Linked DNA regions of Homo sapiens. The protein of the gene in region 3 purifies or fractionates together with the protein of the main gene of each other region. This does not show direct contact. Each region holds a gene or a part of one and is shown on either strand. Other genes may lie near its edges. The genes, in order: CMBL, HABP4 and AKR1C3.

The links.
Region 1: the proteins of AKR1C3 (region 3) and CMBL fractionate together in Homo sapiens (co-fractionation; one large-scale study listed by BioGRID). This does not show direct contact.
Region 2: the proteins of AKR1C3 (region 3) and HABP4 purify together in Homo sapiens (affinity purification with mass spectrometry; one large-scale study listed by BioGRID and IntAct). This does not show direct contact.

What each region holds. Positions count from the first base shown.
Region 1 is NC_000005.10:10,287,335-10,290,987, forward strand, and holds part of CMBL (carboxymethylenebutenolidase homolog), read right to left. Parts: intron 3,448-3,653; 5' UTR 3,429-3,447; coding exon 3,214-3,428; intron 1,196-3,213; coding exon 1,088-1,195; intron 1-1,087. UniProt on the Homo sapiens protein: Cysteine hydrolase. Can convert the prodrug olmesartan medoxomil into its pharmacologically active metabolite olmerstatan, an angiotensin receptor blocker, in liver and intestine. May also activate beta-lactam antibiotics faropenem medoxomil and lenampicillin.
Region 2 is NC_000009.12:96,456,655-96,460,307, forward strand, and holds part of HABP4 (intracellular hyaluronan-binding protein 4), read left to right. Parts: intron 1-1,724; coding exon 1,725-1,887; intron 1,888-3,653. UniProt on the Homo sapiens protein: Ribosome-binding protein that promotes ribosome hibernation, a process during which ribosomes are stabilized in an inactive state and preserved from proteasomal degradation.
Region 3 is NC_000010.11:5,100,828-5,104,480, forward strand, and holds part of AKR1C3 (aldo-keto reductase family 1 member C3), read left to right. Parts: intron 1-1,273; coding exon 1,274-1,383; intron 1,384-1,657; coding exon 1,658-1,823; intron 1,824-3,653. UniProt on the Homo sapiens protein: Cytosolic aldo-keto reductase that catalyzes the NADH and NADPH-dependent reduction of ketosteroids to hydroxysteroids.

The DNA.
Region 1 (3,653 bases), on a different chromosome or scaffold from region 3:
AACTTGGATGGAGCTGGAGGTCATTTCTCTAAGGGAAGTAACTCAGGAATGGAAAACCAAATACTGTATGTTCTCACTTATAAGTGGAAGCTAAGCTATGAGTAGATTCACAGAGGCACATAGAGTGATATAATGGACTATGGAGACTCAGAAGGGGGAGGGTGGGAGGGTGTGAGGGCCAAAAAACTATATATTAGGTAAACTGTACACTACTCGGTGACAGATGCACTAAAATCTCTATTTTCATAGATGGTGCTCATAAAAATATTGTTTGATATTGATCATCATCACATAAAGAATGCTATCCCCGCTGGGTGCAGTGGCTCACGCCTATAGTGAGACCCCATCTCTATTTTATTTTAAAATTTTTAATTAATTAATTTCTTTTTTTTTTGAGATGGAGTCTCGCTCTGTCCCCCAGGCTGGAGTGCAGTGGTGCCATCTTGGCTCACTGCAATCTCCGTCTCCCAGGTTCAAGCAATTCTCATGCCTCAGCCTCCCAAGTAGCTGGGACTACAGGCGTGCGTCATGACACCCAGCTAAGTTTTTGGTTTGTTTGTTTGTTTTTTGTATTTTTAGTAGAGGCAGGTTTCACCATGTTGGCCAGGCTGGTCTCAAACTCCTGATCTCAAGTGATCAGCCAGCCTCAGCCTGCCAAAGTGCTGGGATTACGGGTGTGAGCCACCATGCCCGGCCTAAAAATTTTAATTACAAAAAAAATCCCAGCACTTGAGACCAGCCTGGCCAACATGGTGAAACCCCGTCTCTACTAAAAATACAAAAATTAGCCGGGCTGGTGGCAGGCGCCTGTAATCCCAGCTACTCGGGAGGCTGAGGCAGGAGAATTGCTTGAACCTGGGAAGCACAGGTTGCAGTGAGCCGAGATCATGCCACTGCTCTCCAGCCTGGGCTCCAACAGAGCAAAAACAAAAAAAAATTTTTTCTCCTTTGTGCCAGGGGAAGGATTCCATTGGCCATGGAGAAGTCCTACCCCAAGGTAAGGAGTAGTGTCTGAAAGGTGAAGCCCACCCAGCTCTCACCTCCCTGGGCCACAACGTGCACATGGCCACGTCTGCGGATAACTCACCTATCGATCTTCTGGGCATTTCTTGTTTTCAGCCACTCAGGGAAGATAGACCAGTCGCCAGAGGGGTCCCAAGGCTCTTGCCCTACAAAGAAGTCTGGAACAATGGTTCTGCAAAATATGGACATGAATTGATCTTAGTTTCAGAGTTGCTTGACTCAGTATTTTGCTTGCATTTATTTAAAAACTTGCTACGTTGGCGATTCTGGCTCAGAGAAAAGGAAAAGTAGTGGGTGTGAAGGCCAATTTTGATCGCAGCAAAGCAGCCACCTGGCACCGGGCCAAGCCCTCTTAGGTTTCACAACCGCAGGTGCACAGCGTCTGGCAGCCTGCTGGTAACCCAGCCCTGGCAATGAGGCTATCCACAGGGCACACTCCCATGGGATAGGCTGGCATGGGATGTGGAGGCACCTGGGGGAGTGGGCCTGACGTGGGTGGCTTTGAGGGCCCCTCCTGCCCCTCTCAGCCAGCCTGGGGAGACTCCTGGCCTTTCACATGAGCCTCAGGCCAGAGGGCACACCTGGCTAACTTGTCCAGTCACTATGACCAGGCAATGTTCCCAGCCTCCACCAAGACGGCGACGAAGCACAGTTTCCTATCCAGAGGGTATGTTCTAAGACGGGCAGCAGAGCACAAACAAGCCTGGCCCCAGTCCAGGTCGCTCTTCCATGCAAGTCAACCCAGAGGGATAGAGCCAGCCGCTGGGGTTGAGTCCTGTTTCCCAAAATAGAATTGCCACCTGGTTGGAGGAACAGGGCTCCTCCTATAGGGGTAGAAGAACACTGAAACTGGAGTGAGAAAATCCAAGTTCGAGGCTCGGTACACCCCATGCTGCTGTGTGGCCTTGGCCTTCACAAGTCATGTCACCGCTTCTAGCCTCATTTTCTCATCTGACAAACTTGCACTGCCTAACCCCAGAGGATCCTCTCGAGGGCAAAAAAAGTTGTATACCTGTGAAAGGGCTTTGTAAAACAGGGGTCTTTCCTTATCTTTTATGTCCTGACCCCTGCTAAAGGACCCTCCGTGAAACAACAGAAACAGCAATGCCATTTGATCGGCTGCTTGGGCCAGTGATCTGGGGCAGCCGCAAAGCGCTCTCTTTATGGCCTGGTTTCCTAATCTGCAAAATGAGAGCAATAACAGCTCCTCCCTCAAGGGGCTGCCAGGAGGACTAAGGGCAATGAGCCCAGTCATGCCCTCAGCACTGCGTCTGGCTGAGCAACTGAAACTAGCTATTTATTTACTTATTTATTTTTACTGGGCTTGCCCCTAGAAAGTTAAGTCCCCTCACATGGGGACGTGAAAAAGGAAAACTTCAAGGAAGGTCTTTTCATTCAGCACCGACTCTGCATCCCACCAGGGTGGGCATGATTCCTTTAAGCCAGTTTCTCTTCCTAGAAAAACAAGGTAGGCTCATCCTCGGGTTTCCAGCTTCTCCTTCTGTGAAAACAAAGGAAATCCAGCCGTGCACCATCCTCAGGGCTCACTGGGTTGATGCTTTCCGACGCTGGAGAGGAAGGAAGGTTCTGGCCCTCCTCTGCGCTTTACACCGGGGCAAATAAGAAGCAATCGGGTATCAGCCTTGGCCAAAGGTGGCCATGGCCACTTGGCCAGACAAAGAGGTAAACTTGGGGAGGGGAGCAAGGTCTCACTGTGCCACTTCTGAACCCCAGTCTAATTCAGAGGGGGCCACGACCGTACGTGTATGGACCAGGAGGAGCCTTGGACACCCTGCCGTCCAAATGGGCCGTGAAATCTGACACGAGGCTGAGCTGTTGAAGGACCGAGTCACGGGTCCATTTGACAGCAGGTGAGGCTGGCCTCAGATGTCCAGTGCCTGCGTCTGGCTGAGGCCCCACACGGGAAAAGAATTCTCAATGTCCAGCAAGTCTAAAGGCCAGGTACTCCCAGGAGGACAGGAAACCCAGGAATGGGGTTAGGAGCACCAGGTGGGTGTTTAATTTCCCAAGACATTTCCCATCTATCTTCACGGCAGTGAGATAGGGAAGTTTCTAATGTACAGTAGATACTGTATAGTCAGACCGCTGTGGTTTTATTTTTTAAAGGGAACAAAATAAACCACTGAAATTTGTATGAATTTAAACAAAGAAACACAACTTTATACATACGTGTATCCATTTCCTGAGATCATGTCAGCTATATATCTGGTATTGGGCAACTGCCAGCCAAATATATCTTGAATGACAATCACAGCTTTGCCTGCATCAACGGGGGATTTGGTGACATAAGCCTTGATGTGCTCGACTTGAACTTCACGGCCTAGCCCTCCATACTCAAGTCTGTGGCCAATGTCACACGGACAAGGATAAGCTTCGTTAGCCATTGCAGAGATTTAAGTCGGGCTATGGAGAGAGAAACATGCGTTATATTCTGAATGCTGCAAATCTAAAGGCTATAAATGGTAAGTAAACCTCAAATCAAGATTATAGAAAAAAATTCATTTTAGCTACATCTATGGTATTATGTGAGAAACCAATGGTAACTTCTGGTTCTGGCAACACTGCAGAGTAAGGCTATAGACACTAGAAATGCCGGATTGAATAACAAC
Region 2 (3,653 bases), on a different chromosome or scaffold from region 3:
GAGGCTGAGGCAGGAGAATGGCGTGAACCCGGGAGGCGGTGCTTGCAGTGAGCCGAGATGGCGCCGCTGTACTCCAGCCTGGGCAACAGAGCAAGACTCCATCTCAAAAAAAAAAAAAAAAAAAAAATATATATATATATATATATATATATATATATATATATATATCCATTAACTTGAATAAATGTCATAGCTATACAACTAATGTGGAGAGTAATTTGTACCAAGAAAAATTGAAGCCACTATAGTAAATATTGCACATAGTGAGAGGAGATCTTTTAAATGTATATAAAAAAAGATAGACTTTTTTTGAAGATTAAAGATGTGACAAAGTTCTCCACAATGTATTTACCAAGTATTAGATGGCTTCAAACATAGACTTTGCTTAAGATGTTTAAAGCATTAAAACTAAAGGGGAGTAAAGCAAGGTGACAGGACAGAGGAAAAGACCAGAGTCTCGGCCGGGCACGGTGGCTCACGCCTGTAATCCTGGCACTTTGGGAGGCTGAGGAGACCAGCCTGACCAGGTTAGAGAAACGTCGTCTCTACTGAAAATACAACATTAGCCAGGCGTGGTGGCGCAGGCCTGTGATCCCAGCTAATCTCTACCCGGGAGGCGGAGGTTGCAGTGAGCCGAGATCGGGCCATTGCACTCCAGCCTGGGCAACAAGAGTGAAACTCAGTCTCAAAAAAAAAACACAAGAACAAAACCAGAGTCTGTGGTCCCAGCACAGTGTCCAAGTGCTGGACTGAGTGGACAAAAAGAGATGCCCTCAAGTACTGGCTGACTCTTGGGCAAGTTGCCAAATAGCAGTGTTTGGTTCATATTCAGGAAGTTATAACTGCAAGTCTATATATCTCATAGAATAGCAGGAAAATCTGTTTTCAAAGTAAAAATATAAGCACTACAAACTTTAAAAACAAAAACCTTGGCCAGGCGCTGAGGCTCATGCCTGTAATCCCAGTGCTTCAGGAGGGTGAGGTGGGTGAATTGCTTGAAGCTGGGAGTTCGAGACCAGCCTGGCCAACATGGTGAAACCCTGTCTCTATTAAAAATACAAAAATTAGCTGGGCATGGTGGCACATGCCTGTAATTCCAGCATCTTGGGAGGCTGAGGCATGAGAATTGCTTGAGCCTGGGAGGCGGAGATTGCAGTGAGCCAAGATTAAACAGTGCACTGCACTTCGGGCTGGGTGACAGAGCAAGACTCTGTCTCAAAATAAGTAATTAAGTAAATAAATTAAAAAAATACAAAATAAAAACAAAAACCTTAGTAGCCAGTGATAAGCCATAGTTGCTATGTAATGTGCAGTTGGGATTCTAAAAGTACAGTCTGAAATATAGGGTATTCTTTCATTTTCTAGGTACGGCTTACACACTGTGTTTTTGTAAGACTGCTTTTGTGAACTGTAGCTTATTTAGTAAAATGTACCCATGGCTGTCACAGTTATTGGGAGATGCCTGTAATTATAGGTGAGCTTAGTTGGTCATATACTTTCTAGGATATAGGGAAAGCATGATTTAATAGTAACATCCTATTAAAAAGTAGACTGTGGGCAGTTGTAGTATCAGCAACTTTTTTCTTTGAAGTTTTCTAAACTTCCTGAATTCTCCTATGACGTTGATTTCTAGAAAAATGAAATTTACAAGTACCTGTAAAGTTTAATAGTGTGCTGTTGCAGATGTTGTGTTCCAGCTCTCTGCTTTGATTTTCTGTTGGTAGGCCAGAAGCGGACTCCTAGAAGAGGGGAGCAGCAAGGATGGAATGACAGCCGTGGGCCGGAGGGGATGCTCGAAAGAGCTGAGCGGAGATCCTACAGGGAATACCGACCCTATGAGACAGAGAGGCAGGCAGACTTCACAGCTGAGAAGTTTCCAGATGAAAAGTATGTGCTGCAGTCCTCAGCAGGGCGGGTGGGGAACCAGAAAGGTTTTGAGAAAATGCTACTTTCTTTTTCTTTTCTTTCTTTCTTTTTTTTTTTTTTTTGAGACAGTTTCGCTCTTGTCGCCCAGGCTGGAGTGCAATGGTGCGATCTCGGCTCACTGCAACCTCCGCTCCCGGGTTCAAGCAATTCTCCTGCCTCAGCCTCCCAAGTAGCTGGGATTACAGGCATGTGCCACCACGCCCGGCTAATTTTGTATTTTTAGTAGAGACGGGGTTTCTCCATGTTGGTCAGGCTAGTCTTGAACTCCCAACCTCAGGTGATCCACCTGCCTTGGCCTGCCAAAAGTGCTGGGATTACAGGAGTGAGCCACCATGCCCGGCCCAGAAAATACAACTTTCTACTGGCTACTGCTTTTTGTGGTACCAGTCCTAGGAATGTTTTACTAATTTATGTGCAATTCATGTTACCTTAGATGATGGGAAGGATCTTCCTTTTTCCTCATAGATGCCTTTACGTCTTGGTTCAGGAAATGATTGTACAATTAAAAATGAATTGCTTGTTGGTAACTGAAGAGCACTCTTAAAAAGAAATTACACAGGAGTGTGTTGAACTGGTTTTCTTTTGAAGTTCTAGATTAGAGATATAATTTTGGACTAGGGATATAATTATGGTTTTTGATTTCACATTACCAATTTAGACTGCTCAATGGATTGAAATAAATTCCTAGCTCCACGGTCAGGTCAGTAGGCTGCCATGATGAAATTTGAAGAAGAGTCTGTTATGATGTGTAATACCAATTTCTGGAGGGCATGGCTGCTCTCCGAAGTACTCTAACATGGACAGAAGTCGTGGGCTGGTGGAGTGTTGCGTCGCTGCTTAGTGATGTGGCAGCATGGTGGCCACCGCACTCCACCTCAACACGGGGAGGGGTTGTGTCTTATGTTTGGCACTTGCTGCTTAAAGTCTTTGTTTAATCATTAAACCTGTTTATGTTAAACAGAAACAAGTAGTGAATCACATTTCAAGGAAAATAAAGTTAAACAAGCTAAGGAAGACTAGAATAGTGAACAGTTATATGTCAAGGGAGCCATTTTTCCAAACTCTTTCTGCTTCTTGACTGCTAATTCCATTCCATTTAGGATTCTGGCTACAAGTTTTAACCAAAAAATGTGGCTTTGTAAAACTATACTATAGAGCCTATTAAAAACAAAACAAAACAAAAGTCCAGCAGAGAGTAACTTAGCCTGGGTGGGCTGAGCAGGTGATGACTCATGCAGAACTGTTCACCTGGAAGTTACACATTCAAGACATTGAGATAGTCTATCTGCAACCATGTTGGAGGGAGAAACTTACAGAAAGCCTTAATTTTGCACCTTTTTTGGTGATTACTTCAAATCTGCTGTGTAGTAAGCACAGTCTCCTTGTTTCTGCAAAGCTTCTTGTAGCAGAGCTGCTTATTTTTGGAAGCATTTGGGTATTTATTTTCCCCTCACTTTAGGGATTCTGTGGAAATGAGGAAATTATAGTTCACTTGCACAAACCCATGTTTCCCCCCTTTTTTAGTAGCAAGACTGTGTAGTCTTTAAAAAGGATAAAATAGATCTTTATATGTGACATGAAAAAATAGCTATTAAGTGAAATAATACATATATGGAAGAGTAAGGTGGGATATGGAATTATGGAGGGGTTTTTTAATTTAAATAAGGTCAGAATTACAGAAAAGTTTTAAGAATTATACGAAGAATTTCCATCTGCCCTTCGAGACC
Region 3 (3,653 bases):
TCAACATAACCATTTATATTCAAAATTGTTAACACTTTGCCACATTGCCAAATATTTATGGCAAATGTTTATGTGGGTATATCTGCATAAATACATATAATATTTTCAAAATCTCTTTAAAATAAATTGGAAAGATGACAATTCACCTCTATAGACCTAAATAAAGTATGTCACAGAAATGAAGACATTCTTCCAGCTACAGTATAATTATTGTATCTAAGGAAACGAACTGCAATGCCCTCATGTCGTTTAACATCCAGTCTATATTTGAATTTCCCACTGTTTAATGGAAATGTCTTTTATAGTGCTCCCTTTTAAAACAGAATGGAAACAAGTTGTGAGCTGATCTGTTCTTTATAATCATAGGTTTCCCATTCAGCAATTACTTATAATCCACTGGGTGATAATTCCTAACAGAAGAAGTCATATTCCATGACAAATTTTCACATATGATTGTGTAAACATCACTAATACTTTTGTATTTAATGGTTATTTATTATTGTATTTATTATTTTTTGGAGTTTTTAGATAATCATTTTCAATTTTAAAACCTTATTTAACTATTCTTACGTGACATTTTACTATGAAAAAAAATCCTTCACCAAATCAAAATGAAGAACAAATATTCCTCAAAGACAAAGTTTAATACTTGCCTCTAAATATCAATTTCCTAAGAGATTACTATAATAACCACCAATGGTGGAGGCAAATTATTTTGTTCTTTCTTGCTCTCTGATTATCTCACTCATTACTCTGGACTTGGACATTTTTCCTTAAGATTTTTAATTAATTTTATTAATTTTTGTTAGTGCTCATTCTTACCCAATGGGTAGATTTTTTTCTTGATGCTGAAATCTATCCAAACATCACCAGTGACATTTCTTTGAAAGTAGTGCTTTTGTCTTTCAGACTTGCACTCACGAGTCCTTGACCAAATTCTTGCTTTCTGGCACAATCTGAAGCCCAAAGGCTCTAAGAATCTTACTGTATCCCAGATATGGAACTTGTTACATCTCCTTCTAGTTGTCAAAGGTCTTTGGAAGCCAGGATCTGATTCATAGATGAGCTTCTGTTCAGAAATGGCATTTCCATTTATACTTTTAGAAGATATATAAAATTTATTTCTATGAAAAAGGTTATTACTTGACAATAATATCCTCAGCTCAAATATAATGCTATACTGATTATTATTCAGCTTCCTTACTTTCATCTTTTCAATATTAACATAACTATTTCATATAAATTGATGCTTCTCTCTTTTGGTCAACTGCAGGTAGAATGTCATCCGTATTTCAACCGGAGTAAATTGCTAGATTTCTGCAAGTCGAAAGATATTGTTCTGGTTGCCTATAGTGCTCTGGGATCTCAACGAGACAAACGATGGTAATAAAAACAATGGGACCTTTACATAAACCTTCATTTTGCAGAAAATTTTTTAGTCAGAGCATCCTCAGTTTCCTGTAGTTAAGTTTCAAGTGGCTCATGGAGAGGAAAGAGAATTGCATTTCTGACGAGATCTTGGATGATGCTGATGGTGATGCTCGGGGGCCTCGCTTGAGAAGCTCCGGTGCAGAGTGGATGCCTTAGTCTGTTTAGGGAGCCGCCTAACAAACTATCGCCAGCCTCAGGGCCTCAGCCTTTCTGCCTTTCCTTCCAGGGTGGACCCGAACTCCCCGGTGCTCTTGGAGGACCCAGTCCTTTGTGCCTTGGCAAAAAAGCACAAGCGAACCCCAGCCCTGATTGCCCTGCGCTACCAGCTGCAGCGTGGGGTTGTGGTCCTGGCCAAGAGCTACAATGAGCAGCGCATCAGACAGAACGTGCAGGTGAGGAGCGGGGCTGTGGGCCTCAGGTCTCCTGCACAGTGTCCTTCACACGTGTGCTTCTTGTAAGGCTCTCAGGACAGCCTTGGGCCAGCTCCATTTCCCTGTATTTCCCATATGAATGCTTTGCGTGCATCCTGAGGGTTTCTTCTACTCTACCACGGGAGAGGCAGCACAGGTGCAGAGAATTAAGATGGGACCAAAAATGGAGATTTTTTTATTTCAGCATTAAGTTGACAATCTACTCTGCATCCCTGCACCAGGAACATCATTTTTTCATGTTGTTTGTTTGGTTTTGGTTTTTTTTTTTTGAGACAGAGTCTCATTCTGTCTCCCAGATGGGATGATTCTCCTGCCTCAGCCTCCTGAGTAGCTGGGATTACAGGTGCCTACCACCAAGCCCGGCTAATTTTTGTAATTTTTAATAGAGAAGGTATTTCACCATGTTGGCCAGGCTAGTTCCAAACTCCTGACCTCAGGCAACCCACCTGCTGTGGCCTCCCAAAGTGGTACTACAGGTGTGAGCCACCGCTCCTGGCCTCCTCTTCATCTTCAGAAATGTGGAGTAGCATTAGGTGTTCTTTAGTCTACCAGTCATTGTGGATTTTTCATTTCCATTTCTTCGTACGCTCAGTTAAAATTTCACATATTTATTCACTTGGAGTTTTCTGTTTGTGTACTGCCTGTTTAAGTCTTTCTTTGACTCTTAGTTGCTTGTCTTTTTTTTAAGTATAGGAGACCATAATTATACTATTAAATAGAGCTGTTAAACAAATCACCCTCAACATAGGGGTTTAAGATGAAAACCACTGATTTACTCAGGATTCTCTAGTTAGAAAATTAGCATGGCCTCAGCCTGAACTTAGTCAAGTTCTGTTCTTGGCTGGGCTCTCTCATGTGTTTGCAGGACAACGAGATAGCTCTGCTTCAAGATGTCAATGGGACATTTGTCTGGGTGCCATTTTCTCCTCCATATAGTTCATCCTGCAGCCATCCAGCCCAGACTTCACCTCAGCACATGGCATGACCCCAAGGCAGTGAGTGGACACATGCAAAGCCTTTTCATGTCTAGGCTCAGGGCTGCCACGCCATTGCTTCTGGCAAATATTACCCACATTACAGGACAGGCCAGACTCAAGGGATGGGTAAACAGACACCACCACTTATTGGAAAGAGCTAGAAATTCATATAACCAAGCAAGTGGATACAGGGACATGTGAGTGTTGGAGGAAGTGTTTCTTATTAATCTATGATGGATTAATATATGATAGGTTAATATATATGATAGATTGATATATATATTATAGTTTAATAAGATATATGAGATAGATTACACATACATACATATATATATTCTGGGTATTAATCGTTTAGAGATTTAGATGTATTATTGAAGTACCACCTCCCAAATTGCATATGTGCTGTGGTTTTCTCTGTAGTTATGTATTCATGAACAAAAGTTGCTACTTTTCATGTAGTTAAATTATTCATGCCTCTTTCCTGTGGTTGATGAGTGGCATGTCTTTTCTTATATTGGGAACATGACAATCTTTTAATATGTTATCTTGCAAAATTGGTAATTCTCTTTACTTATAAATTAGTTGTAAATTCAAATGAATTTCTTTTTCAATACTAAGTAAAATAAAAACCCAAATATGCACATGGAATTTCTAAATTGATATCAAAAGGTGCCACCAACAATTATTGAAAAGCATTCACATTTGCTCACATATCTTGATTTTTTACTCTACCATAAATGAAACATTCATTCACAAATAATATTCTTGCCTCTCTTTTGTCTTCAATTGACTTATTTACTTTTCTGTACTGTCT